Linked DNA regions of Homo sapiens. The protein of the gene in region 2 purifies or fractionates together with the protein of the main gene of each other region. This does not show direct contact. Each region holds a gene or a part of one and is shown on either strand. Other genes may lie near its edges.

Region 1 (16,568 bases), on a different chromosome or scaffold from region 2:
CCTCAGGCTCCCGAGTAGCTGGGACTGCGGCTGCACACCACCATGCCCGGGTTGTTTTTATTATTATTATTATTATTATTATTATTATTATTATTATTATTATTGAAGAGAGCTCACTATGTTGCCCAGGCTAGTCTTGAACTCCTGGGTTCAAGCAATCCTCCCACTGCCTCGGCTTCCTAAAGCGCTGGGATTACGGGCTGAGCCACAGCACCCAGCCCATTGGGTTTTTTGGTGCTAATGGTAATGGGACAGTCTGTCTTCCTGGCAGCTGAATACTCCGAGAGGCTTTTAATGGCACCATGTTTTCGGGAGGTTTTGCTTTAGTCAGATAAGGGAAGTTTCATTAAGATTTCTTTCTACATCTTCTGTAGCTCAATGTTTTCACTTAAAAACAATCTTTATGTCAACTCTGGGGGTCAAAGTACGTCCCCACGGTGGAAAAGTTCTTGTCCCAATCTCTACGGGGAGGAACCGATCTGAAATCTTGGGATATGTCTTAGCATGTCCACCGTGATTGAGGTACAAGCAGTGGTTCAGGGCACCGAGTTAGCGATTCTAGGTAAGCAAGACCATGTCAAGAAGTGGTTTGTCCAAAAGTTCGTGAGAAGGCAGAAACGAGGGAGAGTGGCAATCGTTGTTCTTTAAGAGGGCACGGTGGTGGAGGAGAAACTTGCACATCGGGGCCTGGGGTACCACGATCTGGGGCCTGGGGACGCGATTTGGGGAAACTCGGTGGCATCTGGGCTCCGCTTGATGCCAGTGCGTGTTCGTGCAAGTTACTTCCTCAAGTTCAGGGTGAGGATAATAATATCTACCATGTGGAGTTGCTGGGAAGATTCACTACCAACAGAGGCAGAGCGCACGGCTCGCAGGAAGCGCTCGCTAGGGTCTGCTCTTTCCGGGAATGGGTGGGGTGCGCACTCCTCAACAGGGCTCTCAGGACTTGCGTCACACGCCTCAGTCGGCTGGCTTATAAAACACCGGCCAGAGCCCCAAGATCGCTTTTAGTTTCTCTTCTTTCTAAAGAAGGCTCGCGGAGCCCGGCTGGAGAACCTCACCCTCGCCGAGCCTAGAACCGAGAGGGGGCCACCCCAGGCGGTCACCAGCAGATTTGCCCGCGCGTTCTCTTTCTTTCCACCCAGTTGCCCTTGCGGCCGGCTGTAAACCTGCCACTAGGACCCGGTCGGTGAGATCTAGCCTCTTGACCTGAGAGCCGAGAGTGGATCGCTGGGCTGGGCTAACGGCGACGGAGAGCGCGCCCTCGCTGACTCCGGGCGCGCCCAGCAGTAGCACCGCCCGCGCCCGCCCCTGGACACTTGTAAGTTTCGATTTCCGATTTCCGCGGAACCGAGTCCCGCGCCGCGGCAGAGCCAGCACAGCCAGCGCGCCATGGCGGACCCGGAGGTGTGCTGCTTCATCACCAAAATCCTGTGCGCCCACGGGGGCCGCATGGCCCTGGACGCGCTGCTCCAGGAGATCGCGCTGTCTGAGCCGCAGCTCTGTGAGGTGCTGCAGGTGGCCGGGCCCGACCGCTTTGTGGTGTTGGAGACCGGCGGCGAGGCCGGGATCACCCGATCGGTGGTGGCCACCACTCGAGCCCGGGTCTGCCGTCGCAAGTACTGCCAGAGACCCTGCGATAACCTGCATCTCTGCAAACTCAACTTGCTGGGCCGGTGCAACTATTCGCAGTCCGAGCGGTGAGTGCACCCGGAGGGAGGGGCGCTGTCCGCAGCCGTGGTCGGGGTGGACTGTCCAGGCGGGCAATGTTCTGGGAGGGGCACGGCTTCGCCGGGACCCCGCACCTGACAGCCTCCGCCTCCAGCCACTCCCTTCTCTGCTCCCCTCTGGGAGCCTCTGCAGGGCCCGCGCTTCTACCTTTGCAGTTCCCTTCCTTCCGGCACCTCCAGACATTTTCTCGAGAATGGCTAAAATGCTAGTGCCTGGAGGAGACCAGGCTCAACCTCCACCCCTTTCCCCGCCCGCCCGCACGAATCAGAAGAATAAAGTGCTCTGGAGCCAGCCAGGGCCTAGAGAAGCGGTAGGCAGGTTTGGGAAGGAAGGAAAGAGCCTCCCGTCTTTGGTATCTTGAGTCTTTCCCTCCCTACTACCTCCTTCCCTAGACGTGGCGGAGCCAGTAACCCAGCCGCCCTGGGCCCCCGGTCCGTCTCCGCCGGAGCGAGCCGCAGGTCTCTCTGCTTGTCCCTCCCTTCCCGGTCACCCCCATGCCCCTCATCACCGCTTTTCTGATGCCTGGCGCGTAGCAGGGGTGGCCCTTTTCCAGGTTCCTGAAGTTGTAGCAGCCGCGGGCCTTCCCTCCGGGTGGTCTCTCTACGGTGGCGCGCGCAGTTGACCGCCTGCCTTGGGACAACTCTCTTAAATCCCTTTGAAGCAGTGTGGCTCACGTCTCGGGCCACTGCTTCTGTTGTTTCCGTTTGCCTTTTTTTTTTTTCGTCTAAATGCAGATGCGCTGCAAGGTTTGGGTTAAGACTCTTGAGTGATTTTCTTCCCAGTTTCTCCCTAAGAGAGCTTGCTCCCTCGAGGACAGCTGCACATCTAAAAAGATGGCTTCCAGGTCCACATTCGCTGCCCAGGCCTTTCCCTTGATCCCAAGCCCTTCCTCTCCCGCGTGTGTCCTGTCCATGGAGTCAAACTCATCTTTTCCCCCAGGCAGGGTTTTAATCCTCCTCACAATCTGTCATCACCAAGTCCTTTTTGTGAAGTCTCTTTCCCTTCTTGGCGGATTCTGCCTTCCCATCTAATTTCTGAATGAACTGAATGAACGCCTTGTTGAATTAATGAATGGCCAGTCTTTCCTCCCACCCTTTCTGTCACTATGTGCTCTGCTCAATTACTTTTCTCGATACAGTACTTTTTACACTTGGCCCATTCTTAAACACTTTGACTTGTGTCCCAGGGTTTAAAATGGTTGTCAGCAAACTTTTTAGGCTGGAGTGCAGTGGCTCCACCTCGGTTCACTGCAACCTCCACCTCCCAGGTTCAAGCGATTCTCCTGCCTCAGCCTCCCGAGTAGCTGGGATTACAGGCATGCACCATCGCACCCGGCCAATTTTTGTATTTTTAGTAGAGACAGGGTTTCACCATGTTGGCCAGGCTGGTCTCGAACTCCTGACCTCAGGTGATCCACTTGTCTCAGCCTCCCAAAGTGCTGGGATTACAGGCATAAGCCACCAAGTCCGACCAGTCGGCAAACTTTTGATCACGCACCTAACAAAAACTCCAGTCACTCACCCCCAATATACGTGTAATAAAACACACAAAGGTAAGTGTTTTAGATGGATGAGGTAGAGGACGCAATGTATTTTTTTAAAAATTTCTTTAGAGCAAAAACCCTTTCAGCTCACTCTAACGTTTTTAAAAAGTGCTTGAATGTGTTCCTTTATTTAAAATTTTCTTTAATATGTTGTGGGGCAACAATTTGAAGGTTGTTTCTGAGTTGCTGGGAGTTATGGGTATCGAGGAAATCATCTAAGTCATTGCTGGTCACTGAAGAAATCTCTGAGAAGGAGAAGAGAGCAGAGGGTGGAGGATAGAAAAGGAAGGAACATTCTAGCATGTTCTAGCACTACACCAAATAACATGGTTGGAAGGCTTTGTTATGTTTTTTCTGTTCTTATCTTTTCTATTATGACAAATTCTTCACCAACTAGTGTTGATTTTTAGTATGAAATACATATGCTTTTTATTTTTTTATTTCTTACTATGGATATTTTCAACATACTCAAAAGTAGAGAGAAAAAAATGATGAAGCCCCTTGTACCCATCATTTCAACAGTTTTGAAAATATGGCCAGTTTTGTTTCATTTATTCTCCCTATTCCCCATGTGTCCCCAACTCCAATGTGTTATTTTAAAGCAAATCTCAGCAACCATTTGATTACTAAGTACTTTAGTATCTCTAAAACATAAGAACTATGTTTTATTAACATAATACAGTACAATGATCACATTTTTGTAAAAAAAATTACAATTTTAATATCATCTATTGTCCAGTTGGTATTCAAATTTCCCTGATTGTCTTATAAATCCAACTTTTATTTTCAGGGAAAAGGATACATAGACATAATCCTTTTAAAAAAAGATTTTTTTAAAATTTTTTGAGATAGGGTCACCCAAGGCTGGAGTGCAGTGACCCGATCTCAGCTCACTGCAAACTCTGCCTCCCAGGTTCAAGCAATTCTACTGCCTCAGACTCCCAAGTAGCTGGGATTATAGGTGTGTGCCACCATGCTTGGCTAATTTTTTGTATTTTTAGTAGAGATGGGGTTTCGCGATGTTGGCCAGGCCGGTCTCGAACTCCTGAGCTCAAGCGATCTGCCGGCCTAGGCCTCCCAAAGTGCTGGGATTACAGGCCTGAGCCACTGCCTCACCTGGCCTATAATTGTTTTCATATGTTACATATCTAACATTTAAATACTTTGTTTCAATTTGTTGTAGGCAATATGCTTAGAAATTTTAGTTTTATGAAGTTTATTATGGTATATTTTTCCCTGGTTTGAAACAGCAAAACTGTTTTAAACTCGTTAATTGGGTTGTTAACCTCCACTTTTATAAGAATATATATAATATAGGGATTATTTGGTCTATCTAAATTTGGATGGACCCTCCAGAGAAGTCAATAAAGTTTATTTTTTTTAGTAGAGTGATAAAATCTTATTTCCTAACATTTATTGGCAGAGCCATATTTTTAATTTCATTTTATATCACTTTTGAATTTGGGAATTACAAACTTTTAATCTATTAATGTATAAAGTGTTGTAATAAGGACCTCTGGGAGAATTTTTTTTTTGTCCTCGGGTCCTAGAAAACATGTTTTTTTCCTCCCTACTTATGTTTTAAAAATATTCTCCTCTTAGCGAGTAATAAAACCTTGTCTTCCAAAACTTGCCACTTGTGAGTTTAAGAACTTTCTTTGTAGATTACCAGTTAATGGGGTCTGTTAACTAATTGATACCCATCTTGACATTACTATTCAGTTCACTAAACTGGTCTCTGTTTACAGGGGGACGATTTGCATTGTGCTGGGTGTATAAAATTTTGTCTGTGGTACTATTATTTATAGATAGGATTTATCCTGTCTATTCTGTAGTTCCTGTCTTTTCTTTTGCAATGTTTTTAGTGATACATTTTAGTTGACAACAGGGCTTGCTTCAATGTTGGATAATTGTTTTGGTGAATCGGTTTGGATATTTCTATTTGCTTTGCTGAAATATATGCCCACACATGGAGTTCTAATCCCACTTCTGATGCAAAAATAATCACTATTTATCGAACAAATAACTATGTGCCAACCACTATGATAAGCACTTTGGAGATGATATCCAGGTTAGTCTTTAGGATAGCTCCTAAGGTAGTATTTTAAGTCCCATCCTTATTGTAGGAAACTCGGGCATGGAGCCTTTCAGAAATCTACTGAAAGTAACATAACTAGAAGCTGGCAGGATTGGTATTTGAACCTAGATCTGCATGACTTCCTTTTTTTTTTCTTTAGAAATGAGATCTTGCTTTGTCACCCAGACTGAAGTGCAGTGGCACGGTCATAGCTCACTGCCACTTCGAATTCCTAGGCTCAGATGATCCTCCTCCCTCAGCCTCCTGAGTAGCTGGGACTACAGGTGGGCGCCACCATGTCCGGCTAACTTTTCTTTTCTTTTTTTTTTTTTTTTTTTTTGAGACAGAGTCTCACTCTGTCACCCAGGCTGGAGTGCAGTGGCGTGATCTCAGCTCGCTGCAACCTCCGCCTCCCCGGTTCAAGCGATTGTCCTGCCTCAGCCTCCCGAGTAGCTGGGATTACAAGCATGTGCCACCACACCCAGCTAATTTTTGTATTTTTTAGTAGAGATGGGATTTTGCCATTTTGCCTGGGCTGCTCTCAAACTCCTAGGCTTAAGCAATCTTCCCAGCCTCCCAAAGTGCAGGATTACAGGCATGAGCCACCGCTCCCGGCCTTGTTTGACTTTTTTTTTTTTTTTTTTTTTTTTTGTGACAGAGTCTCGCTCTGTTGCCAGGCTGGAGTGCAGTGGCGTGATCTCAGCTCGCTGCAACCTCCGCCTCCCCGGTTCAAGCGATTCTCCTGCCTCAGCCTCCCGCGTAGCTGGGACTACAGGCGCCTGCCACCACGCCTGGCTAATTTTTTTTCATTTTTGTATTTTAGTAGAGACGGGATTTCACTATGTTGCCCAGTCTGGTCTCCAACTCCTGAGCTCAGGCAATCCGCCCACCTCAGCCTCCCAAAGTGCTGGGATTACAGGCGTGAGCCACCGCGCCCGGCCTTGACTTCTTAACTAGCTACTTACATTGTCCAGTAACTATATGAAGTTATTAATTCAAAAATTTATTTTGCCTGCATGATTTCTGTTAACTGTTTCAAGCAGGCTGCCTAAGGGTCTTTACCTTGCTTTGCGGTTTTTGCCGATGTGGGTGTTTCCTCTGGGTTCTTTCCTGTTTGTATGTCTTTCCTTTTCGGTTAATTCACATTTTGGGTGGGGGTGGGTAGATGGGAAGAGGACTAGTTGACTGTTTCGCAAGTTGAATAGAATACTGAAAAACGCAAGCATCAGAGAATATTTATTCTGAACCCATAAAAGTTATAACTCACCTCCTGGGATAAATAAGTGTTCACATTTTTCAGTTTTGCTCCTCTTTTAAAATATACTAAACAATCATAACAGACCTAAGGTTATTTTTTTCTCATCCCCAGTCTCATTTCCCTTTCCTAAGAAGCAGCTTCAATCATGATTTTGGTGTGTATCTTGTCCTTCCATGATTTTATAATTTCCTCTTGTATATGTTTGCATCCATATACAAAATGTAGTATTTTATGTGTTTTAGAATTTTTATTCAATGCTGTGTTTTGGAGATCTATTCATATTGCTACACAAGGACCTAGTTTATTCATTTTAACAGTTGAAAAGTATTTCATCATAGGATTTATACCACAGTTCAGTTACCTATTCCCCCCAGTAATGGATATATAGTATATTTCCAGGTTTTTGTTATACCAAATCGTGCTGCCAAGAATTTACGTGCAAGTGTTTCCTGGTGCTCATGGTTAGAGCTTTTCCAGGGTAGATCATTAGGAAGTGGAATTGTTGGTTTGAATTGTTACATAGCTTCAACTTTTCCAGATTCTGACGAATTAGTATAAAGGTGGCTGTGCCAATTTATACTTATATGTCTGAGTGTCCCAGTTTCCTCATTTTCTGGCCAATTAATGCTTGGTGTTATCAGACTTTTTTGGCTTATGCCAGTCGGAAGGCTTTGAAATAGTCATTATTTGAATTCAAAAAAAATTTTTTTCCTGGGCTGGGTGCAGTGGCTCATGGGTGTACTCCCAGTGCTTTGGGAGGCCAAGATGAGAGGATTGAGGACAGGAGTTCAAGACTAGCCTGGACAACATAGTGAGACCCCATCAAAAAATAAAAAAAAAATAAAAAAATAAAAAAATAAAAAACAAGTAAAATAAATAAAAAATAAAAATAATTATATAAAAAATATTAGCTGGGCGTGGTGGTGCATGCCCATAGTCCTAGCAGTGCTGGAGGCTGAGGCAGAAGGATTGTTTGATCCCAGGAATTTTGAGGTTACAGTGAGCTATGTTCATGCCAGTGCACACCAGCCTGGGCAACAGAGTGTGGCTCTGTCTCCAAAAAAATTTTTTTACAACAAATTTTAAAGTTTTTGTATTAAAGTTTTTATTTTATATATATCATATATAAACACACACACACATATACATATACATATACATATACATATACATATATATATACTTTTTTTTTTTTTGAGACAGGATCTTGTTCTGTCACCACTCTGGAGTGTGGTGGTGCAAATATGGCTCACTGCAGCCTCCACCTCCTGGATTCAAACGATCCTCCCATGTCAGCCTCCCAGTAGCTGGGACCAGGCTAGTGCCACCATACCTGGCTAATTTGTGTGTGTGTGTGTGTGTGTGTGTGTGTGTGTGTGTGTGTGTATAGAGACAGTGTCTCACTATTTTGCCCAGGCTGGTCTCGAGTGCCTGGGCTCAAGCATTCCTCTTGCCTCAGCCTCCCAAACTGCTGGGATTACAGGCATGAGCCACTAAGCCCAGCTCAGCATGATTTATTACTGTTAAATATTTAGACATTTGTATCCAAGCCTCCATTTATAACCTTGCTCTGGGCCCCACCAATTTTAGAGAAGGTCTACTCTGATTCCCTGAAATGTCTTCATTGTTTTCTTTTGCATGAATGTACACAATTTATATATTGATCTTCTTATTATTAAAATTGAGACTGGCCTCAGTAGCTAATATCTGTAATCCCAGTACTTCAAGAGGCCGAGGTGGGAGAATCTCTTGAAGTCAGGGGTTCGAGACCAGCCCGGGCAACATAGCTCCTACAAAAACATTAAAAAATAAAATTAGTTGGACACAGTGGCACACACCTGTGGTCCCAGTTACTCAGGAGGCTGAGGCGGGAGGATCACTTGAGCCTGGGAGGACAAGGCTGCGGTCAGGTGCAGTTGCGCCACTGCCCTCCAGCCTGGGCAATAGAATGAGACCCTGCCTCTGAAAAAACAAAGTAAAATTGATATTGTTTTAAGTATTTGCTATTAAACCATTATGCTTTGAACATTTTGGTATATGCTTCTTTGTGTACATGTACATGAGTTTCCCTAGAGATCTAGTAGTGGAATTTTGATTTTTTTTTTTTTTTATTGATCATTCTTGGGTGTTTCTCACAGAGGGGGATTTAGCAGGGTCATAGGACAATAGTGGAGGGAAGGTCAGCAGATAAACAAGTGAACAAATGTCTCTGGTTTTCCTAGGCAGAGGACCCTGCGGCCTTCCGCAGTGTTTGTGTCCCTGGGTACTTGAGATTAGGGAGTGGTGATGACTCTTAACGAGTCTGCTGCCTTCAAGCATCTGTTTAACAAAGCACATCTTGCACCGCCCTTAATCCATTTAACCCTGAGTGGACACAGCACATGTTTCAGAGAGCACAGGGTTGGGGGTAAGGTCATAGATCAACAGCATCCCAAGGCAGAAGAATTTTTCTTAGTACAGAACAAAATGAAGTCTCCCATGTCTACTTTCTACACAGACACAGTAACAATCCGATTTCTCTATCATTTCCCCACCTTTCCCCCTTTTCTATTCCACAAAACCGCCATCGTCATCATGGCCCGTTCTCAATGAGCTGTTGGGTACACCTCCCAGACGGGGTGGTGGCCGGGCTGAGGCGCTCCTCACATCCCAGACGGGGCGGCAGGGCAGAGGCGCTCCCCGCATCTCAGACGATGGGCGGCCTGGCAGAGACGCTCCTCACTTCCTAGACGGGATGGCGGCCGGGAAGAGGCGCTCCTCACTTCCCAGACTGGGCAGCCGAGCAGAGGGGCTGCTCACATCCCAGACGATGGGCGGCCAGGCAGAGACGCTCCTCACTTCCCAGACGGGGTGGCGGCAGGGCAGAGGCTGCGATCTCGGCACTTTGGGAGGCCAAGGCAGGCGGCTGGGAGGTGGAGGTTGTAGCTAGCCGAGATCACACCACTGCACTCCAGCCTGGGCAAGATTGAGCACTGAGTGAGCAAGACCCCGTCTGCCATCCCGGCACCTCGGGAGGCCGAGGCTGGCGGATCACTCGCGGTTAGGAGCTGGAGACCAGCCCGGCCAACACAGCGAAACCCCGTCTCCACCAAAAAAATACGAAAACCAGTCAGGCGTGGCGGCACGCGCCTGCAATCGCAGGCACTCGGCAGGCTGAGGCAGGAGAATCAGGCAGGGAGGTTGCAGTGAGCCGAGATGGCAGCAGTACAGTCCAGCCTCGGCTCCGCATCAGAGGGAGACGGTGGAAAGAGAGGGAGAGGGAGACCGTGGAAAGAGAGGGAGAGGGAGACCGTGGAAAGAGAGGGAGAGGGAGACCGTGGAAAGAGAGGGAGAGGGAGACCGTGGAAAGAGAGGGAGAGTGGAATTTTGATTCTTAAAGTTTTATGTGATAATGCCAAATTGTTTTCCGAAGTGTGTTTGCCAAGTTATACTCCCACCAGAAGAATAAGAGCCTTCCCTTGCCTCACATAGTGGCCAAGTGGTATCGTCAGCTTTTAAAAATTTGTGCCAATACAAGGAATGTGAAATTGTATCACTGTGGTTTTTTTTGTTTGTTTTTGTTTTTGTTTTTGTTTTTTTTTGAGACAGAGCCTCGGTCTGTCGCCCAGGCTGGAGTGCAGTGGTGCAATCTCGGTTCAGTGCAGTCTCCGCCTCCTGGGTTCACGCCATTCTGCCTCAGCCTCCTGAGTAGCTGGGACTAGAGGTGCATGCCACCACCCCTGGCTAATTTTTTTTTTTTGTATTTTGGGTAGAGACAGGGTTTCACCATGTTCGCTAGGGTGGTCTCGATCTCCTGACCTCGTGATCTGCCCACCTTGGCCTCCCAAAGTGCTGGGATTACAGGCGTGAGCCACCGCGCCCAGCCCTCATTGTGGTTTTAATTCTTTATATATTCTGGATCTCTAGCCCTTTTAAGTCTTATTACTCATTTTTTTAAGTTTGTCTTACTTGGCATCTTAGTAGTTGCTTCTTATTCGCATTTTACTTTTTTGGTCATCATAGCACTCTATTTTTGTTTGTAACAGTTTTTGTTTGTTTGTTTTTTACCATTTTAAAAATGGCTAAAACTATTTTTATTTATTTTTTGAGATAAAGTATTTATTTTTTGTTTGTTTTTTACCATTTTAAAAATGGCTAAAACTATTTATTTTATTTATTTACTTTTTTGAGGTTTATTTATTTATTTATTTATTTATTTTTTGTTCTGTCACCCAGGCTAGAGTGCAGTGGTGTGATCTCAGCTCACTGCAACCTCCGCCTCCTGGGTTCAAGCGATTCTCTTGCCTCAGCCTCCCAAGTAGCTGGGATTACAGGCACGCGCCACCATGCCTGGCTAATTTTTGTATTTTTAGTAGAGACAGGGTTTTGCCACATTGGCCAGGCTGCTCTTGAACTCCTGACCTCAGGTGATCTGCCCTCCTGGGCCTCCCGAAGTAAAACTATTTTAAAGTGTACAGTTCAGTGGCAATAAGTATATTCATGATGTTGTGCAACTGTTACCACTATTGGAATTCCAGAACATTTTCATCACCCCAAAGAGAAACCCCACAACCATCAGGAACCAGTCCTCATTCTCCCCTTTCCTCAGCCCCTGGCGATCTCTAACCTACTTTTTGTTTGTTTTCCAATTCTGGACATTTCCTGTAAATGGGATCTAATAATATGTGGCCTTTTGTGTCTGCTTCTTTCACTAAGGAAAAATGATTTGCATTTTACTCTTGCATGTTCTGTGTTGTTTGTGTGGGCGTATTCATCTAGGAGAAATCTTCCTGAAGTTCCTTCTGTAACTAATTCTGCACTGTCCATGGAGTCATGTTATTGTCAGACTGGTGGCCTTAGAGACATGCTGTTTTCTGCAACATCGTGACACAAAAGGGTGCACCCTGTAAGAATCATTTGGGAATTTTTGTTCTCTTTTCACAAACACTACATCTCAAATTTTTAATTTGATCAAATTTGACTCTCGGTGTCTGCAATTTTCTTTAGAAATTAAGCTAACAAACATTATGACATTGTAATATTGTGAACCATGATAAAATCTTAAATAGTGACAAATGAAGCATGTGATAACACAATATTTTCTACTTTTTACATAATGCAGAGATGGCAAAATTACACATTTAAAATAAGTAGATATATTTTTCCATCCATTAAATGGTTCTAATTTGCTTACTGCTTCTGCCTGTATTTACTTCCAAACCAGGTATCTGCGAGCTTTTCCTGCGGCTACTTTGGAACAGAAGAAGCCATAGTAACATAGAGGTGAAAAAGGGGTAAAAGGTTTCAGGAGCACCTAGGATTTCAGGCCCAGTGAGAAATCACTTCAACCAAATTGCAGCAGGGGAGCTGGTCTCAGGTTGGGAGGAGAGAGGGGAGACTTATTTCATGATCTTTTCTCTATTTCCCATACAGGGAAGAGATAGTATTTTATTATTTTTTATGTATTATTTTGTATTTACTTATTTATTTATTAAAATAGAGACGGGGGTCTCAATATTTTGCTTAGGCTGATCTAAAACTCCCGAGCTCAAGCCACCCTCCTGCCCCAGCCTCCTGAATAGGTGGGATTACAGATGTGTACCACCACTCCTGGCACTGGGAAGATATTTTAATATGTTTTAGACCAATTTAGAAAATGAAGCTAAAAGAGGTCATCTAAGGGAAATCGTTTCCTAACATTTTGATCCCGCATGCCTATCAGCAGAGAATGTTTTGAGCATGTACTCCTAATGTGTGTACATTTATTTAAACATTCTATGATGGAAAATTCTTAATTTGTATACTATTTACTGTTCTACTTTTTAAAACTTTTTAAAATCAATTTTATTGAGGTATGATTTACATACAATAAAATGTACCCATTTAAAGTGTATGGAGGCCGGGCGCCATGGCTCATGCTGTAATCCTAGCACTTTGGGAGGCCAAGGCAGGCGGCTCACTTGAGGTCAGGAATTTCACCAGAGATGGTGGAACCCCATCTCTACTAAAAAAACAAAAAAAAATTTAGCTGGGCATGGTGGCGTGCACTTGTAATCCCAGCTACTCAGGAGGCTGAGGCAGGAGAATCTCTTGAACCCAGGATGTGGAGGTTGCAGTAAGTCGAGATTGCACCATTGCCCTCCAACCTGGGCGACAGCGTGAGACTCCATCTTAAAAAAAAAGGTAAATAATGTGTATGGTTTAAAGAGTTTTGATAAATGGATGCCCCTGTGTAACCATCACAACACTCTAGATACAGAACATTTTCATCAGCCCTAAAGGTTCTCTTGTGCCCCTTCTCAGTTAACCAGGGAGTCCCCCCACTCCTCCAGCCCTTTCAGCCCAGGCAATACTTTTCTGGGCTGAAAAGATTTTTTTACATTAAGAAATATAAGGAGTTCCGGCCGGGCTTGGTGGCTTATGCCTGTAATCCCAGCACTTTAGGAGGCCGAGGCGAGCGGATCACGAGGTCAGGAGATCCAGACCATCCTGGCTAACACGGTGAAACCCCGTCTCTACTAAAAATACAAAAAATTAGCCGAGCGTGGTGGCGGGCACCTGTAATCCCAGCTACTCGGGAGGCTGAGGCAGGAGAATGGCGTGAACCCAGGAGGTGGAGCTTGCAATAAGCCGAGATCGCGCCACTGCACTCCAGCCTGGGCGACAGAGCGAGACTCCATCTCAAAGAAAAAAAAAAAAAAAAAAAATATATATATATATATATATATATATATGGAGTTCCAATATTTGTTTCCATCCATGATGGATTGTTTTGAGTAGCTTCTGGGATGCAGTTACCTAGCTTTGGAGCAGTGCTTCTCAAACTTTGACATGCATTTTCATCACATGGGAGAGTCTACTAAAATGCAGGTTCCCAAGTCACCTATTGGAAATTCTGTTCCGAAGAGGAGGGTTGGGGCCTGAGAATCTGCATTTTTATTCATTTATTTTTAAAATTTTCTTTTTTTTATTTTTTATTTTTATTATTATTATTTTTTTAGACAGAGCCTCCCTCTCTCACCCAGGCCGGAGTGCAGTGGCACGATCTCTGCTCACTGCAACCTCTGCCTCCTGGGTTCAAGCAATCCTCCCACCAAGCAATCCTCCCACCTCAGCTCTGAAGTAGCTGGGATTACAGGCCTCTGCCACCATGCCCGGCTAACTTCTTGTATTTTCAATAGAGACATGTTGCCCCGGCTGGTCTTGAATTCCTAAGCTCAAGCTATCCACCCTCCTCAGCCTCCCAAGCTGCTGGGATTACAGATGTAAGCCACTGCGCCCCCAGGATCTGCATTTTTAAATACCACCCTAAAGAATCCATTTGCAGGGGTCAAACCACACTTTCAGAAACATATAATTCCTTGGGGGTACACTTCCTGGAAGACTGCAAATGCAGAGTTTTATGTGGCTTTCGAGTTTGAGGGAGTGAGTAAAAGAAATGAATTTTTTAGTTCTGAATAAATGAAAGATTTTTCTTTAAGTGATCTTTCTCAGAGATTAGGGGTTCTATGACTTTTATGTGACAGACCAAAAGACATAGGAAACTTTTGGCATCCTAGGTACCAAGTCAATAAATATTTATTGAGCACAAACTTTGTGTCACAAATGATAGACAATTCTAGAGGCTTCTACCCCTTCCTTTGTCACTCACAGGATCCTGAAATACTGTCAACCAGTTAATTAATCTCTCTCTGGTTAATATTTGTTAACTTTCAGAGGGACTTATGCTGGGAAGTATTGTGGCGGGTGGTGGGGAGAAGCCAGCCTGTGAGAGGAGAGGGGGCTTGTGTGAACTACTTTCTCTGATCATCAAGATTTTGGTGGTCGGGTACGGTGGCTCACGCCTGTAATCCCAGCACTTTGGGAGGCTGAGACGGGTGGATCACCTGAGGTCAGGAGTTCAAGACCAGCCTGATCAACATGGAGAAACCCCGTCTCTACTAAAAATACAAAATTAGCCGGGAGTGGTGGTGCATGCCTATAATTCCAGCTACTCGGGAGGCTGAGGCAGGAGAATCACTTGAACCCGGGAGGCGGAGGTTGCGGTGAGCTGAGATTGCGCCATTGCACTCCAGCCTGAGCAACAAGACTGGAACTCCGTCTCAAAAAACAAACAAACAAAAAAAAACATTGTAGCAGTAACGCCACCACCTGCGGCCATCTACTCTCCTTTTTCTCAGTCCTGATGTGGACCTAGGGCAATGTTTCTCAAACTTTGCTGCATGTTGGGATCACTTAGGAAATCTTTAAAAAATACTGATGCCCGTCTCCTACCTTCTGATTTAATTAGGGTTTGAATTGGACTTTGGGATTTTGTTTTTTTAAGTCCCTAGATGGTTTTTAATGGGCAACAAGCTTGTGAACCATGAACTTAGGGGACTAGAGAAGTCAAGACTGGAGAGACTGTCCATAATAACAGAAAGATGATATTTTGGTGGCACCGGTGCTGTTTGTCCCACTCTTGGTACAACTGTAGGGTATGTGCGGATTCTTGGCCTCCGGCCTCCCCTATCCTCAGCGGGCCCAGCCTCCTCTGCTCTCCAGTCTTGCAAGGCCCTCGGTGCTTTCCTCTTCCTCCTCGGTGCAGGCTGTGGCTTGCCGTGGCTGCAGCCTTAGGTTCACCATTTTCTGCAGTGAGCTGGGGCTCTCTTTGTGCCTGCTGTGTTCTGGGTAATACAGTTGTGGTTAAAGGAAGCTCATTTTTTTCGGCTCCACCCTCTGTGTCTCCCCACATCCTTCGTTACCCTGCTCATGTGATCTCGTCTGGTCTATTCTGTTTCTCCTCCATCTCACTAGGGGCTCTAGAGGCAGTAAACCATCCCTACCCTCTAATAACACGGCAATTTAATCTTGAATATCAGAAGTACAAATATGGGGAGTAGGAGCCTCGTGGCTTTAAAATAATATCGCGTTAGGGTTGGTTTTGACTGATGACATTTTATTCTTTAGCTCAATGTTCTCTAGATTTTATCTTTCACACATCCTGGTTCCTTTTTTACCTGGCTTATATCATGGTGAGTGATTTCCTGTTTTCTATACAAATCAACGATCTTTTTGTTTTTGCCAACCCTATTAGGTGTTAGGGAGCAGAGGGGATGAAGGAGAGAAGGGAAGGAGTACTTCGATATAATTACTGTCCAAAAAAAAAAAAAAAAGACTCGGGTTACTGTCTCTTTTTGGTCTGACTGTTGAGTTCAGAGCTAGTCCTGTGTTTACCGATTTGTGAAGTGCAAGAGCTCCGAGGTGAACATCCAGTTCAGGAATCTAACTCAGAATCAAATCTGACAAGCGCATCCAGTGATTCTCAGCTCAGACTGCACGTGGGAATCACCCGGGCTCCCACCGCAGTAAGATGAAGCCAGTCTCCAGGGTGTGGCCCAGGGTTAGGTTATTTTCAACACTGCCCAGTTGATCATTATGTGTAGCCAGGAATGAGAATCACTGTGCAGGCTAGTTGTTTAGACTGCACCCGTGGTGAGAGAGAGCGCTTATTGCCTGGGCTAAAATAACATTTTGTTCTGTGGCTGGAAGAGAAAAGTGAAAAGGTCGTTTGTTTTTAGGCTTTTGGCCTGAGCTCCTTAAAGAGAGACAATTCTGCTCCTTTCAAGGATGTCTTTGCTGTTTTTTTTTTTTTTTTTAAGTTATCACCTCCTACTGCAACTCGCCCTCTTTGTTTGAGGTTTATCTGCTCCAAGTGTGGGTAGCATTCTGCAAACGCTTGTTTTGTCCTGGGAAATTCATAATAATTAGTAGGAGAGCTCTTTTTGTACTGGCGAGAGGGGAGTTCCCACAGCTTCTAACCAACCTTCTGTAGGACCTGTTGTCCTTTTTGGGGAGGTGGCCCTGAGCTGCCTATACTCCAAGTATGTTCGTAAAACCAGATTGTTAGACATGCAAATTCTTGGCCTCCAACCCTAGATTTACTGATTCAGACACTCCAGGGTGGGGGCCCAGGAATCTAATGGACCTCCTGTCTAGGT
Region 2 (16,736 bases):
ATTCAAGTTCCCAAAACAAACTTGAGGAGTTATGCTGGGTTTGAATTGAAGAAAAAAGGCCAAGTTAAAATAGGAAAACAAATGGTTTTCATTTGGTGGCAGTTGAAATCAAAGTATACATGTGTATACATTCTAATCCGTCATCTATCCCATGTGGCATTTTCCAAGGTTTTAAGAGTCTACCAGGCCAAACCCTTTGCCACTTTCACTGCTTTTGCTTTGCTTTTCCCCTTTCTTTTCTCTCGCTTTGCCTTCAGCCTTTTTCTTTGCCTTTGGTTCATCCATATTGGGTACTGTCCATGCTGGTCTAGAAGAGTCTTTTTGTTTCTCTTAATATCAGTCTCCATTTTCATGTCATCTGCATAAAAAGATGGAAAAACTATTAACACCATGTATGAAAAAAACCACCCTGTGAAAGCATATTAATGCACTGAGAACATCAGAACATTAGAACTGAAGGTAGACCGAAAATAGAGAAGAAAAAAACTTTATAAAGAATGTTGGCATGACTGTCCTTCCTTAGAATAGTAATGTTAAATAGGAAACATTTAGGATGCATGGCTCTGAGTTAGTACATTAGTAGATATATGGTTCTGAGCACATGTGAGTTACAACAACATTTCTCATATTAAGTGATTCCTTGAGTTCAGTAAGCATACCTACACTTCTAAGGGATACACCTTAGATGTAATGAACTGATTAGGAATGACTGGCCATTTCTTAAGAACTTGAACTAAATTATAATGAACTGAGAACGAACTTCTAATGAACTCGATGGAGTAGTCAGCAGCAGGGTTGTAATGGCAGAGACAGGCACTCAACAGAGAAGACCTGGACACATCCTGGGGCTGGCATACTTTTCCTAGCTAGGTAACACCCAGAGATCCAGCTCTACTGATAGGAGACTTGGCAGGAAGCTCAGTGCAAACATGCTGTGGTACACCTATCACCTTCTCCACTGTGAAGGACATGCTCAGAGTCCCTCACTGGGACCTCCTTATCAGGATACACAAAGTCTTCTATTATCTCGACTACCTGGCATTATATTAGATATTTGCCATTGTTTCCACAGTATCTAGAATAGTGTCTGGTATATAACAGCCACTCAATAACTAGGTGTTGAATGATTATTTTAGGTGCTGTTCTAGTTTATGGGGATATAGTGGTCCATATGAACTCCTAGCCCTCACGGAGTTTACAGTGTTCTGTTGACGGGAGAATAACACAGCAAACAGAAAGAAAACCTCAGCCAGGTATAGTATCTATAGGCATTTGTAGTCTCAGCTATTCGGGAGACTGGGGTGGGAGGATCATTTGAGGCCAGGAGTTCAAGGATGTTGTGGGCTTGGTCACGCCTGTGAACAGCCACTATACTCCAGCCTGGGCAACAAAGTGAGATCCTGTCTCCCCGCAAAAAAAAGAACTGGTAGGCGCTGGTAAGAACATGTTAAGATAATGAGGTTTTTAAGCATGGCAGTGATATAAACTGATTTACCTTCTGAAAAGATCACACTGGTGGATATGTAGAAGATAAATGAGAAGGGAACAAGAGCGGAAGAGAGAAGTAAAAAGGCTCCTATAATAGTACAGGCAAGAGATGACGGCCTTCTGAATCAAGGTGAAAGCAGGAAAAAAATGGATACAGATTTCTAATGTATTTTTGGGACAATCAGTAAGACTTGCTAATGGTTTAGATGTGGGGAATAAAGGAAAGAGGAATCAAGGATGACTACTAGGTTTATGGCTTAAGAAATCAGGCAGGCAGTTGAAAGAGTAGAAATAAGGAAAAACATGAACTTGAGGGTAGAGATGAGAGCCAAATTGATAACAAATAGATTACTAAATGGGGAGACTCCCTCAGTCTCAGTCTCACCACCCTTTAGCTCCTAAAATATCTAAGAATAAGGGCATCCAGAATTCCCCAGGCAGGACATAAGATAATTTCTCTCTGGGGATGATGAGGAAAAAAAAAGACTTAACAGATTCTGATACAGGAGATCTCCGAATAAAACCTCCTGGAGCCATTCCAAATCTTCTATACATCTAGCAGTTGACAGACCCTCTCCCACACCTTGTCTCCCTCCAGCTTCCAATCATCATTGTAGTGCCACACTTTTAAATACAAACAATGACCACTGATCACCAGACATTTGAGAAAAGCTTCTAATATGAAAGAAAGAGACAAAAGTAAAGGAATGGAAGGGCTTGGGAGGGAATTCCAAGAGGAAAGACAGATAATACATACCATAAATAAAAATTTCAAAAGCAAATTGTAATTAATACCCTTAGGAGAAGATATATGCCCATTAAGAACACAGAGTTGATGACTCAAGGGGCATTTACAAAACACAAAGAACACAAAGCTATGAAAAAGGAACAGTAGGCCAGGCGCAGTGGCTCACGCCTGTAATCCCAGCACTTTGGGAGGCCGAGGCGGGTGGATCACGAGGTCAGGAGATCGAGACCATCCTGGCTAACATGGTGAAACCCCGTCTCCACTAAAAATACAAAAAATTAGCCGGGTGTGATCGCAGGCGCCTGTAGTCCCAGCTACTAGGGAGGCTGAGGCAGGAGAATGGCGCGAACCCGGGAGATGGAGCTTGCAGTGAGCCGAGATCATGCCACTGCACTCCAGCCTGGGCGACAGAGTGAGAGTTCATCTCAAAAAAAAAAAGTAAAAAAAAAAAGAAAAACTTTTAGAAATTAAAAATATAAGAGAAAACCAAGTAATAAGAACCAGAATTCAAGGTCAAGGAAATTAGAGGGTATAACAAAATAAATAGAAAACAGGAGAGAAAAGAAAACAGGATCAATCCAAAAGAATCAAGAGTGGATGTGGGCATCTGGTATCTAGAACATATAAAGAACTCTTAACAACCCGATAATAAAAAGACAAACAACGTAATTGAAAAACGAGGCAAAAGACTTGAGTAGACCTTTCTCCAAAAAGATAATACAAATGGTCAATCAGCATATGAAAAAATGTTCAGCCGGGTGTGGTGGCTCACACCTGTAATCCCAGCACTTTGGGAGGCTGAGGCAGGTGGATCACTTGAGGTCAGGAGTTCAAGACCAGCCTGGCCAACATGGTGAAACCCCAACCCTACTAAAAATGCAAAATTCAGCTGGGCATGGTGGCACACGCCTGTATTCCCAGCTACTTGGGAGTCTGAGGCAGGAGAATTGCTTGAACCTGGGAGGCAGAGGTTGTGGTGAGCCGAGATCATGCCACTGCACTCCAGCCTGGGCAACAGTAAGACTCCATCTCAAAAAAAAAAAACAAAAAACAAACAAACAAAAACCAAAAAACACTTCATTCAATGTCATTAGTCATTAGGAAACTTCAAATCAAAATTACAATGAGAATCTATTTCATACCCTCGAAGATGGCTATAATCCGAAAATGGAAAACAAGTATTAGTGAGGATGTGAAGAAACTCAAATACTCAAACACTGCAGGTGGGAATGTAAAATAGTGTGGCTGATGTGGAGAACATTAAAAAGAATTACCATATGACCCAGCAATTCCACTTATCAAACAAAACCTTGTGCACCTGAATGTTCACAGCAGCACTATTCACAACACCCATAAGGGGAAAGAAATCCAAATGCCCAGCAACCGTTGAATGGATATGAAACGTGGTACATGCAATGGACTATTATTTAGCCTTAAAAAGAAAGGAAGTACTGATATATGCTACAATGTGCGTGACCTTCAAAAGCACCATGCTAAGGGAAATAAGCCAGGCACAAAGGTCTCATTATATATGATTCCATTTATAAGAAATATTCAAAACAGGTAAATTCACACATGAAAAGAGCATATTAGTGGTTGCCAGAGGCTGGGGGTAGGAGGAGGAGAGACAGACTTCTTAATGGGTATTAAGTTTCCTTTTAGGGTGAGGAAAGTGTTTTGGAACTAGAGGTGATGGTTGCACAACATGAATGTACTAAATACCACTGAACTGTACACTTTAAAATGGTTAATTTTATGTTATGTGGATTTTGCCTTAACAACAACAAAAAAGAACCAATAGGGAGGGGTGATGTGTGTGTGAGGAAATGAAAACAGCAAGTGAAGGCAAGTGTTTCAAAAAGTTTCAAGGACAGCTGAAATAAAGCAGCAGATTGAGAGAACTTGAGATCAAGGGAGAAATTTTTCTTTCTTTCTTTTGACATTGAACATCCCAGAACACATCTATGCTGTTGGCAATGACCCAGTGGAGGAGACTGATAAGGCAGATGCATGAGTACAACCCCTGAGAATGTTAACGGTGGAGAGGATTCAGAACACAAGTGGAGAAACTGGCCTTGGAGAGAACATTAATAAAAAAGGGAAAACAGACTATACAACATTTGAATTCTTATAGACTTGGGTAGTGGAAAGATGAGGATATTTCTTGGTTGGCCCCTTTTTCTCACAGAAGTTGAAGTAAAATGCTTTTTGTAATTTTTATTCATACAGAGTGGGAGAAGGATGAAATGGGAAGAAGAAAAAGTTAAAAACAGCCATTTTTAAAGGGAAAAAACCCCCTAAGGTTGGGAGATTGAGAAATACTGCTCTTTTCCTTGGGCATAAGACATCAAATACATGTATTTCTATTTTAAAGTCTGGGTATTGCAAATACTTAATTTAGTTTGCTGCCAAATTGGTGCATTAAATGTGCAAAAAGCAGCATTATATATATATCCTCCAACTTCATGATTAAGACACAAAGGTTCCTAGAATCTGTCAAAATGAAATAGTGAAACCCTGTGATTTTCAGGATAATAGTATAAGGGCATAGGACTCATAGAATGGGAATTAGATCTTACAAAGAGTAAAATGAAGACCTATGCTGCCTAGGCCCTGAGTGAACTGTGTACCCTTCCAACCAGAGTATGCCTAGATTTGTCTACTCCTGTAGAACTGTTTATTCCTGAGACATGGAGGCTATTGTATAAGCACCAAAGACCCACTCTAAATAATCCAAAACATATGTATATACATGAACAGGCTTGACAGAATTTTTTTTGTTTTTAAATGAAGCGCAGAGGGGCTGGGCACTGTGGTTCATGCCTGTAACCCAGTGCTTTGGAAGGCTGAGGTGGGAAGAATCCGCTTCAGCTCAGGAATTCAAGGCTGCAGGAAGCTATAATCACACCACTGCACTCTAGCCTAGGTGACAGAGGAAGGAGACCCTGCCTCAAAAAAAAAAAAAAAAAAAGAGAAAGAAAAAGGAGAAGCACACTCACCTTTTTCATCTTTTACCTCACATTGCATTTTCTCTTGGCAATGTTTGGGTTTGGGTACCACCACAGTTGCTATCTCTTGAACATCTTTCATTAAAACATCACCGTCTAGTTTGAGAATACTTTTAAGCCTGCTGGCCTCCTTTGGGGCATTCTTTTTTCTCTTTTCAGCACGCATCTTTCTTTTCCACTTACTCCGTAAGCTTTTAGCCATGTTTTACCTGAAGTTAACAAAAACACACATTCAAAAGCAAATCTTTAATATAAAAAAGAAAACAGGCAAATCCTTAGAAAACCAGGCCAACAGGTATCTCTACAAAACAAGTGAAAAGTAAAACTCTTCAATCTGTTCACTTTTTAGGACTTAACATGCAACTTATATGAAGATCAACATGGTACATACACAGTCACTAAATAACAAGATATCAAATCAAACTTGTGGTCATAAGCAAACTACAAATCAAACCAATTCTGAAAGCACCTTGCATGTCTTTTTTCTTTTTTTTTTTTTGAGACAGAGTCTTGTTCTGTGTCCCAGGCTGGAGTGCAGTGGCGCGATCTCAGCTCACTGCAACCTCCACCTCTCAGGTTCACGCCATTCTCCTGCCTCAGCCTCCCGAGCAGCTGGGACTACAGGCGCCCGCCACCACGCCTGGCTAATTTTTTGTATTTTTAGTAGAGACGGGTTTTCACCGTGTTAGCCAGGATAGTCTCGATCTCCTGACATTGTGATCCGCCCGCCTCGGCCTCCCAAAGTGCTGGGATTACAGGCTTGAGCCACCGCGCCCGGCTGAATTTCTTTACAAAATACAGAAATTTAATTTCCCCAGAATGCAACAGCGTCATCACCTTACATTTATGCAACAGCTTACAAATTACAAATGATTTTTATAAACACTTCACCTCATCTTCATTATCCATCCTCTCAAGCCAACTTAACGACTGTAAACTTATCTATTCCTACTCTTGTTTTCTTTCCACTCAGTTCCGCCCTAAATCCTCCACAAGGTGCTCAGTGTGATCTTTTAAAAAAGCATTCACTGCCTTTCTTCGAGTTCTTTAAAGACCTCCTCCCTCATATATATTCAAGATCTACAAGGTCATTTGTGATCTGTCCCCTGCCTCCTTCAACTCTATTTCATTTCATTCTCCATCCCCATCCCCGCAGGCACCAACTACGTCTGTAAAGAGTCCAAACTATCTCTACGTCAGTGCCTTCATATTTGCTGTCCCTATGCCTGGCAACTGCTCTTCTCAAGGCTTGCTCCTTCATTCGCTACCTCAGAAAGGACTCCTCTGACCTCCGTAAGCTCCCTTCCCTGCTTATTAAGTGTTACAACCTGAAACCATTGTTTTCTGTCACGCCCCCCGACCCTCTCCCCAGACTGTAGACTCCACGAAGGTAGAGGGAAAGGTCTTGTTCACTGCTGAATCGCACACTTTTTGCATACTTGTTGAACGAACCACTAACATTTTTTGAACGCCGGCAATCACAGTCATTCCGCTCCCTTGTCTACATAACTCAACCCTTGCGAGGGGCTAGGAAAGCGGGCGGCAAACAACCTTGAGGGCCGAAGTTAACTTCAGCGGGAGTGAACGACAGGGGTGGGCTCCACTTTATCCAGTGCACTCGGAAGCCGGAGGGCCCCCACCAAAAAGAGCAAGGGGAACCCTCGCCCTCAACAAGGCCTGCATCTCCGGACTGGAGCTCAAGTATAGCCCAGCGAGTGTCAAGAAACGAAATTCTCCAAGGGTGGCGGAATCAAGCCCCAAGTCCCATGTGTCACTGGACCGGTGAGGAACCGAACTCACCTGAGAAACGAACACCCACACCTCACGCTCACGCCGACCGGAAGTCTTTGCACTTCCGTCTTCCGGGCGGAGGCCACCCGGGGCGGACGCATTGCACGCCGGGAGACAAAATGTCTCAAGAAGCCTTGAGAGGCGGGATTTTGGAACCCGGGCGCTGACGAGCTTCCGCCATTGGTGTGATCGCGGACCTAGAAACTTGGTCCGTCCCATACAGGTGTAGAAGTCGGATTTGGAGAATGCTGACGGGTGTCCGGTCAAGGTTAGGCCCCAGGTAGGTCCGCTTTCCGGACGTGGGCAGGGTAGCCCCGAGACTAACCTATGGAGTGAACCTGGCCAGGGGACCCTACTTGTCAGATAGGGAGCTCCGAGCCGACCTTTAGATCTGACCTCAGCGTTTACATGATACTCATGTATTTCCTTAGATCAAGTCAGCCTAGATCAGGTGTTCTTCCAGAGGCCGTATTGAGATCATTTTTATTTGCAGCCTGTGCATTTTCTCATCTCGGGTGATGGCCTCACAGATGTACACATATGTAAAACCGTATCAAACTGCACACTTTAAATATGTGCAACTTATTGCATGTCAGTTATACTCAAAGCGGTTACCAAAAACAGAAAACAAGCTTTTCCTACCCCAGAGAAGAATTTAAAGGGTAAAATGATCAAAGGATTTCAGTTCTATCAATGTTTACCTGTCTGATCACTTACGTATCAGACACAATGCTAAGCCTAGGACGATTGTCTTAGCTCACGAATAACACTTACTGTACAACTATTTCTACTGGCATAGGCTTTGGAACCATATAGGTCTGTGTTGTACTCTTGCTTCCAACACTTGTGAACGATATGGGTGAGTAATTAATGTCATAAGGGCCTGAATTTCCTTGTCCCTAAAGTGAACATAATACAACCTAATTGATGCTGTAAGAGTTCAACAAATGGTACCCTTTTTACATTATAGTTTCAAAAGTATAGCTACACAGTACTATTTGTAAGCAATGTTTCTAGAGATTTACGACATATACCCAAAAAACATGTCTTTAATGATGGCCTGGTAAACTCCTGCTGGTTGCCAGAAAAAGGGGTTCTGAGGCAATCTATGGGTACCTTTTTTCTTTAAATTTGTGTCCTTTATGAAACCATGCATAGTATGGAAATTACTGAATTCAGAATATAGCAAGGTTAAAGAGGCTGAAAAAAACCTAGAACATTTGATATAAAAAAAGGAAGCATGCCTAAGAAACCTGGTTTATTTAAATGAGATTTCGTTCTTATAAAGCAAGTGAATTTCTGTTTTACAAGTTAACCATATACTGTACCTCATCTTTCAAATGAGAAGTTAGCTACCTCACCCAAAAATATAAGTGCACATTGCATTTTAGAGAAAACTTATATTCTGATAGTCCATATTTACTGTATCTTGTTTAACATACCAGGACAAGACTTTTGAATAGGCACTTGGCACCAGAAAAAATAATTTACCTATTATGAAAATGTCATGTTGTTAAAATACCATGCCATGATTTAGCATTACAAGTGCTTTAAACAGCTGAGTAAAACACCCTTTTACTCCTTTTTACTTATGTCCCCTCACCAGTTATATAAAAGCAGTTCTAGAAAAGTGGCCTTAGTATATTTAAAAGTCTAATTCATTCCTTCATTCATGCCTTTGAATATGCACTCTATTATAGGCACTATGCTGAATTTGCAAAGATGAAGGAAACTAAACTACTGTTTTTGGGAAACTTTATCTCCTAATGGACAAACAAGGCTTAAGGGTCCAACTAAACATTGCAGTGGCTCATCACAGAGCTGGAAGGAGCCTATATATAGAACTAGAGGCACAGTGGGTGGCCCTGAATACCTTACAGGAAGCAGACTGATTTTCTCATCCAAAAGGCATGCTACATGATGCAGAACAGTCAGTGGGGCCCCTGCAGTCAGGCCTCTCCCATGGAATCCCTGATCTGCACAATCAGTAAGGAACAGGAAGACTTCTGGGATTCAGATAGTGACCCCATGTTGCCCATTCCCTAGATAATGGGGACTTCAAGACAAAGCTCTAGAAAAATGAAAGGAAAAAGCAAAAAGTATCTAAGTCCTTAGCTGCTCCAAAAAAAAGGCCTGCAGCTGCAGGCTGTTGACCACTAATCCCTGGAAATGCATCAAGTAGACTGAAGCTAGGTCTGAGAAGAAATCAAGGCAGGTGTATACGGCCTACTGCATCTCTTTTCCCAAATTACGTTCAAGAAATACAGAAGTTCTCAGATATTGCTCTTTCCTCATTTTCCTCCTACCTCTTAGCTGTTCTTCCTATGGCCCTTGCACACTGAGTTGCCTGTTGCTCTGTCCAAGTCCTGCTAATTCCATGTTCTTTTTTTTTTTGAGACGGAGTCTCACTTCGTCACCAGGCTGGAGTGCAGTGGCACGATCCTGGCTCACTGCAACCTCTGCCTCCTGGATTCAAGTGATTCTTCTGGCTCAGCCTCCTGAGTAGCTGGGATTACAGGCGTGCGCCAACACGCCCAGCTAATTTTGTATATTTAGTAGAGACGGGGTTTCACCGTGTTAGCCAGGCTGATCTCGAACTCCCAACCTCAGGTGATCTGCCCGCCTCGGTCTCCCAAAGTGCTGGGATTACAGGTATGAGCCACCATGCCCAGCCCTAATTCCACTTTCTATTAATATTTCTGAAGTCTGTGTATTTTCACCTTTACTTAATGCAATGCTTTAAAATGGTCGAGGTATATTCCCTACCTAGAAGAACTCATACTTATACACAGTGGGACACATACACGGACTTACATACCACATAAAATTCATTGACAGAACACAGGAATAAACCAATGGTTGATTTATAAAATGTAATATTTTGTACCAAAGGTTTTCAAACTTCTTGGTCTTGGGATTCCTTTACACGCTTATTATATTGATCTTATCAGAAATTAAAACAATTTTTTTTGGAAAATTTAAGTCATTTAGAAAGGATAAACTTACTACATGTTAACATTTTTATGGAAAATAACTATATTTTCTAAATAAAAAATAATTTAGTGAAAAGAATGGCATTGTTTTACATTTTAAAAATGTCAGATCTACTTTTGCTTATACAGAATCTTTAGTCACAATCAGTCCATTCCACCTTTGAACTGAAAATGGTATTAATAGCGTGCAAAAATGTAAGGGGGCCTCTCCCTCTCCCTCTCCCTCTCCGTCTCCCTCTCCCTCTCCCTCTCCCTCTCCCTCTCACTCTCCCCACGGTCTCCCTCTCATGCGGAGCCGAAGCTGGACTGTACTGCTGCCATCTCGGCTCACTGCAACCTCCCTGCCTGATTCTCCTGCCTCAGCCTGCCGAGTGCCTGCGATTGCAGGCACGCGCCGCCACACCTGACTGGTCTTGGTGGAGACGGGGTTTCGCTGTGTTGGCCGGGCCGGTCTCCAGCCCCTGACCGCGAGTGATCCGCCAGCCTTGGCCTCCCGAGGTGCCAGGATTGCAGACGGAGTCTCGTTCACTCAGTGCTCAATGGTGCCCAGACTGGAGTGCAGTGGCGTGATCTCGGCTCGCTACGGCCTACACCTCCCAGCCGCCTGCCTTGGCCTCCCACGGTGCCGAGATTGCAGCCTCTGCCCGGCCGCCACCCCGTCTGGGAAGTGAGGAGCGTCTCTGCCTGGCTGCCCATCGTCTGGGATGTGAGGAGCCTCTCTGCCTGGCTGCCCAGTCTGGAAAGTGAGGAGCGTCTGCGCCCGGCCGCCATCCCATCTAGGAAGTGAGGAGCGCCTCTTCCCAGCCGCCATCACATCTAGGAAGTGAGGAGCGTCTCTGCCCGGCCGCCCATCGTCTGAGATGTGGGGAGCGCCTCTGCCCCGCCGCCCCATCTGGGATGTGAGGAGTGCCTCTGCCCGGCCGAGACCCCGTCTGGGAGGTGAGGAGCGTCTCTGCCCGGCCGCCCCGTGTGAGAAGTGAGGAGACCCTCTGCCTGGCAACCACCCCGTCTGAGAAGTGAGGAGCCCCTCCGCCCGGCAGCTGCCCCGTCTGAGAAGTGAGGAGCCTCTCCGCCCGGCAGCCACCCCATCTGGGAAGTGAGGAGCGTCTCTGCCCGGCAGCCACCCCGTCCGGGAGGGAGGTGGGGGGGTCAGCCCCTGCCCGGCCAGCCGCCCCATCCGGGAGGGAGGTCGGGGGTCAGCCCCCCGCCCGGCCAGCCGCCCCGTCCGGGAGGTGAGGGGCGCCTCTGCCCGGCCACCCCTACTGGGAAGTGAGGAGCCCCTCAGCCTGGCCAGCTGCCCTGTCCGGGAGGGAGGTGGGGGGGTCAGCCCTCCGCCCGGCCAGCCGCCCCGTCTGGGAGGTGAGGGGCGCCTCTGCCCGGCCGCCCCTACTGGGAAGTGAGGAGCCCCTCTGCCCGGCCAGCCGCCCCGTCCGGGAGGGAGGTGGGGGGGTCAGCCCCCTGCCCAGCCAGCCGCCCTGTCCAGGAGGGAGGTGGGGGGGTCAGCCCTCCGCCCGGCCAGCTGCCCCGTCTGGGAGGTGAGGGGCGCCTCTGCCCGGCCGCCCCTACTGGGAAGTGAGGAGCCCCTTTGCCCGGCCAGCCGCCCAGTCTGGGAGGGAGGTGGGGGGGTCAGCCCCCTGCCCGGCCAGCTGCCCCGTCCGGGAGGTGAGGGGCACCTCTGCCCGGCCGCCCCTACTGGGAAGTGAGGAGCCCCTCTGCCCGGCCAGCTGCCCCGTCTGGGAGGGAGGTGGGGGGGGGTCAGCCCCCCCGCCCGGCCAGCTGCCCCGTCCGGGAGGTGAGGGGCGCCTCTGCCCGGCCGCCCCTACTGGGAAGTGAGGAGCCCCTCTGCCCAGCCACCACCCCGTCTGGGAGGTGTGCCCAACAGCTCATTGAGAACGGGCCATGATGACAATGGCGGTTTTGTGGAATAGAAAAGGGGGAAAGGTGGGGAAAAGATTGAGAAATCGGATGGTTGCTGTGTCTGTGTAGAAAGAAGTAGACATGGGAGACTTTTCATTTTGTTCTGCACTAAGAAAAATTCTTCTGCCTTGGGATCCTGTTGATCTGTGACCTTACCCCCAACCCTGTGCTCTCTGAAACATGTGCTGTGTCCACTCAGGGTTAAATGGATTAAGGGCGGTGCAAGATGTGCTTTGTTAAACAGATGCTTGAAGGCAGCATGCTCGTTAAGAGTCATCACCAATCCCTAATCTCAAGTAATCAGGGACACAAACACTGCGGAAGGCTGCAGGGTCCTCTGCCTAGGAAAACCAGAGACCTTTGTTCACTTGTTTATCTGCTGACCTTCCCTCCACTATTGTCCCATGACCCTGCCAAATCCCCCTCTGTGAGAAACAACCAAGAATTATCAATAAAAAAATAAATTAAAAAAAAAAAAAAAAAAAAAAAAAGAAAATGGTATTAATACCATCAGCTGACATTAATTAAGCACTTAGTTTAGTTTATTTATCTATCTCATTTAATCCTTATAACAGCCCAATAAGCTAGACATCATTATTCCCATTATGAAGATGAGGCAGAAGACCTAAGGAAGGATAAATAATTCGCCAAATGTCACTTAAGCACCTGGTTGGACTGCAATGATTCTAATCTAGATGCTCTTACCCACCATGCTGTTAAACTTGATTGCACTGCATCATACACTTGATAATTCAACAGTTAATGATAATAAAGTCAAATTTACATCTACAAATCATGCAAGCTTAAATTGATACTACAAGTTTATTTCAACTTAATAGCTGGGAAATACTTAGGGGGTGTTATGGGCTGAGTTGTAGTCCCCCCAAAATTCACATGAAGAAATCCTAATCCCAGCACTTCAGAATGTGACTGTATTTGGAGATAGGTTTTGAAAGAGATAATTAAGGAAAAATGAGGTCCTCAGTGTGGGCCCTAATCCAGTATGACTGGTGTCCTCATAAGAAGAAGAAATTTGGGCACAGACAAGTACAGAGGGAAGGCCATTTAAAGACACAGGGAGAAGATGGCCATCTACAAATCAAAGAGAAAGGCCTCAAAGGAAACCAACCCTGCTAACACCTTGATCTTGGACTTTTAGCCTCCAGAACTGTGGGAAAACAAATTTCTTGTTGAAGCCACCCAAGCTGTAGAACTTTGTTATGGCAGCCTAACAAACTAGTACAGTGAGGGAATTTGACAAAATTTCATTGGTTACTGGTACACTGACCTAACATGCTGTGTGGACCAACACAAATGAAACCATAAGACAATACTTCCCAAATATTTTAATTTTGAAATAGATATACTTAATGGCTGATGACCCAGTATCTTTGGTGTCCTCTAACCACATTACCATTCTATAATTTCAAATGAAATCTATACTTTAAAAACAATTAATGTCAAATTTTGTCATAATATCTGACTTTCAGGCCAACTTTTAATGTTAGTACAATTTAAAATAAAAAGTCATTAACATTTTAATGTAATACTGAATAATTCTCTGTGGAATTTATCTTTTACATTTTTTTCCTTTTAAGCAAAAAGAGATTTACAGTTTATAATGGTAAAGACTCTACTACTTCAGAATCAAAGCCAAATCAATATTACTTAATAATTCAGGGAAAATTTAGATAAAATCACTAGACAACGGTAAACTGATATTCTTATCTACTCATAAAATTATTTTTGAATTGCAAACGAACTGCTATGCGTGGCTAATTTAGGAAGAAAAATTTTTTTTTTTTTTTTGAGACTGAGTCTCGCTCTGTCACCAGGCTGGAATGCAGTGGCGTGATCTTGGCTCAATGCAACCTCCACCTCCCAGGTTCAAGCGATTCTCTGGCCTCAGCCTCTTGACTAGCTGGGACTACAGGTGTGTGCCACCACATCCAGCTAATTTTTGTATTTTTAGTAGAGACGGGGTTTCACCATGTTGGCCAGGATGGTCTCAACCTCTTGACCTCGTGATCCACCTGCCTCGGTCTCCCAAAGTGGTGGGATTACAGGCGTGAGCCACTGTGCCCAGCCAGAAAAGCATTTTTAATAGAATTTTGATAGCTCTTAACTGAGATCCTAAATCAAGGATTTAGAAATGAGGTATCATAAAGAATAGTAAGATTTTAAAGCTCTCAAAATTACATATGATACAAATAAAGATTGTAACAGTATTTAATCATTGTTTCAAACTTTATTACTTAATGAAACAGTTTCTATATACTGCTTCCAATTACTTTAATCCTTTTTTCTCATTAAATTTTTTTTGTTGTTCTTCAGTTGAGCTGAGATACTTTTAATTACTTTTTATTAACTGCTTCCAGAAACCGTAACAGGTGCAGGAATAGATTGATGATATCCAAGTAGAGGCTGATGGCAGCTAATACGTACTCTTCAGGTGACAGTTTATGCATCAGTGAGTGTGTGTCATAGATGATGAATCCACAGAAAAGAAGGGCTCCTGCAGCGGCTAAGACCAACTCCATTATCTCACTATAAAAAAAAAACTATAGGGAAGAGATTAAAGAAATATGTTTATATTTGAGAACAGTATTAACAGGACTTAACTTACTTCCTCTAATGATTTACTGCTACATTATACATTTGACAATGGTGTACAACTTTGAATACAAATGTTAAAAGCAGAAAAAGGCAAGGCAAGTCCAAACTTGCCTCTGTTGGATGGAAGGATGAATGAGTGGTTATATTCCATTAAACTAAATTACCCACTTTGAAAAACAGCATTCCACATATAAATTATTTAAAAATATATTTCGTTTTTCACAATTAAATGTGCCACTGGAGCTTGGCAGTTGTAAGCAAGGGCCTCTTTCTATGTAATTTAATTCATTTATTCATTCATCTTTTTTTCAGTCAATAATAAGGACCAACACAAGACCCTGATTTTCTAAAGGGATAATTCTATAATCATTCTATATACAAATGTTCTGGATAATTATAACTAAGTGTCCTATCATAAGAGTATCTCTTATAGCTTTTTGAGGTTATTTATATTGACACAGCCAGAATTATATTTCAAATTAACCATTATAACATAACTTACCTTCAAGAATCCTGACAGGCACAATATCCACAAAAGAGCAAACAGCCTATAAAAATACAATTTTAGTAATTTGCAATATTGTTCCTTACAAAAAAACTTTGTAAACCCATTCAACACTTTCTGAAAAAAACATCCATCTGGATTTTTTGCTGAAGAATAACTAAAATGTAAGAATTTGTAAACATACAATGAATATAATGCCCATCTTGGATCTTTTTTTTAAAGAAATTGAAAGAACAGCTATTTATTCAACATTTGTCTTTATGGTATACAAACCTAGTTAACAGTATAATTTGTGAAGTTTTGGAACATAAAATACAGATAAAAGCAGAAATATCATTACAAGTATTTTAATTCAGAGATCTATAAAAACTTTTAGAAAATATATAAACAAATGAACTAGGATTGCACTTTTAAACCAAGTAATAACAAGTTATTCTGTGAACATGTCTATCGAAGTTCACAATGTACTTTCCATTTTATTCTTATGTATTATGGAACTTAATTGATGGACACATCTGACACTGCTATAATTTTATGAGTTACAATTCAATTGTTATATATAGAGAGTATAAATTATATAAGAAAGGACATCTAAGAAGTCAGTCTTTTGTTATAAAATATGGGACTTATCAGCTGCTTCAGGTCACAGGGAATTACAGAGGCCACATTTATCCTCCTTCCTTAAATAAAACCAGACAAAATATATGAAACAACAGTTCTTGGACACTGGACAGCAAACAGCACAGGACAGGGATTCCTGAGATAAAGGATACAAAGAAAGTGAAGTCTATATTTGCCCCAGCTACAGAGGGTTTCCAGGCCAGCGTGTAGGGATAAGAACCCATACAGTCACTTGCGGTCTCCTTGAGTTGAGCAGACAAGAATTCAGAGGTCAGGGAAGCCAAGGTAGCTAGAATTTGCAGGGCAGAATATCAGAAAGAAGAGAACTATCCACCAAAAGTGAGCACTCTGGTGTATGCACAGGATTCCCCTAGAGTCTGTAGCTACATTCTGATTAATACATGCATGTTAAGGAGGTGACCAAGGCTGGAGAAAGAACCACAATAGAGAAGCAGGCAGAACAATCCTCAGAGTTCACACAGGACTGGGAATAGTTTGCATTCACACAAGCTGGAGTAGAAAGACCTCGTAAGACATGCACTGAGTAGTATGCTGAAGGGTACTGTCTCAGCAGTACCCTTAGGGCCAAATGAGCCCCTAAGCTAAAAGCTGTTCTGGACCTCCTAACAGAGCCTCAAAAGGTTTACTTTCCAAGGAACTTAACTGCATCCTAGGAGAACAATGCCAAATATATTTAAAGTTAATACAACAAAATTCAGCACCCAACCATGTAAAATTTATAATGACCAGCATCCAATAAAAAATTATAAAGGCATGCAAAAGAATGAAGGAAATATGACCCATAACAAGGAGAAGAAACAATCAATAGAAACAAATCCAGAAATGACACAATGATAGAATGCATAGACAATGACATTAAAAATATACTCCCTAGTTCAAGATCGAGGAAAGAATGATCATGAGGAGGAGAGAAATGGAAGATACTATTTTTTTTCAAAAGACACAAATTGAACTGAACTTTAATTGATTAAAAATACAATATATGAAACACAAATATTCTGATTGGAATTAATAGCAGATTAGACACT

Evidence for each region.
Region 1: the proteins of LLPH (region 2) and ZC3HAV1 purify together in Homo sapiens (affinity purification with mass spectrometry; 2 studies listed by BioGRID and IntAct, with this or other methods). This does not show direct contact.

The regions. Positions count from the first base shown.
Region 1 is NC_000007.14:139,094,156-139,110,723, reverse strand, and holds the start of ZC3HAV1 (zinc finger CCCH-type antiviral protein 1), read left to right. Parts: upstream 1-1,003; 5' UTR 1,004-1,392; coding exon 1,393-1,700; intron 1,701-16,568.
Region 2 is NC_000012.12:66,123,661-66,140,396, forward strand, and holds the start of LLPH (protein LLP homolog), read right to left. Parts: upstream 7,091-16,736; 5' UTR 7,045-7,090; intron 5,454-7,044; 5' UTR 5,447-5,453; coding exon 5,236-5,446; intron 359-5,235; coding exon 180-358; 3' UTR 1-179. Other genes in the region: TMBIM4 (protein lifeguard 4), read right to left, coding at 14,300-14,506, 15,064-15,109. UniProt on the Homo sapiens protein: In hippocampal neurons, regulates dendritic and spine growth and synaptic transmission.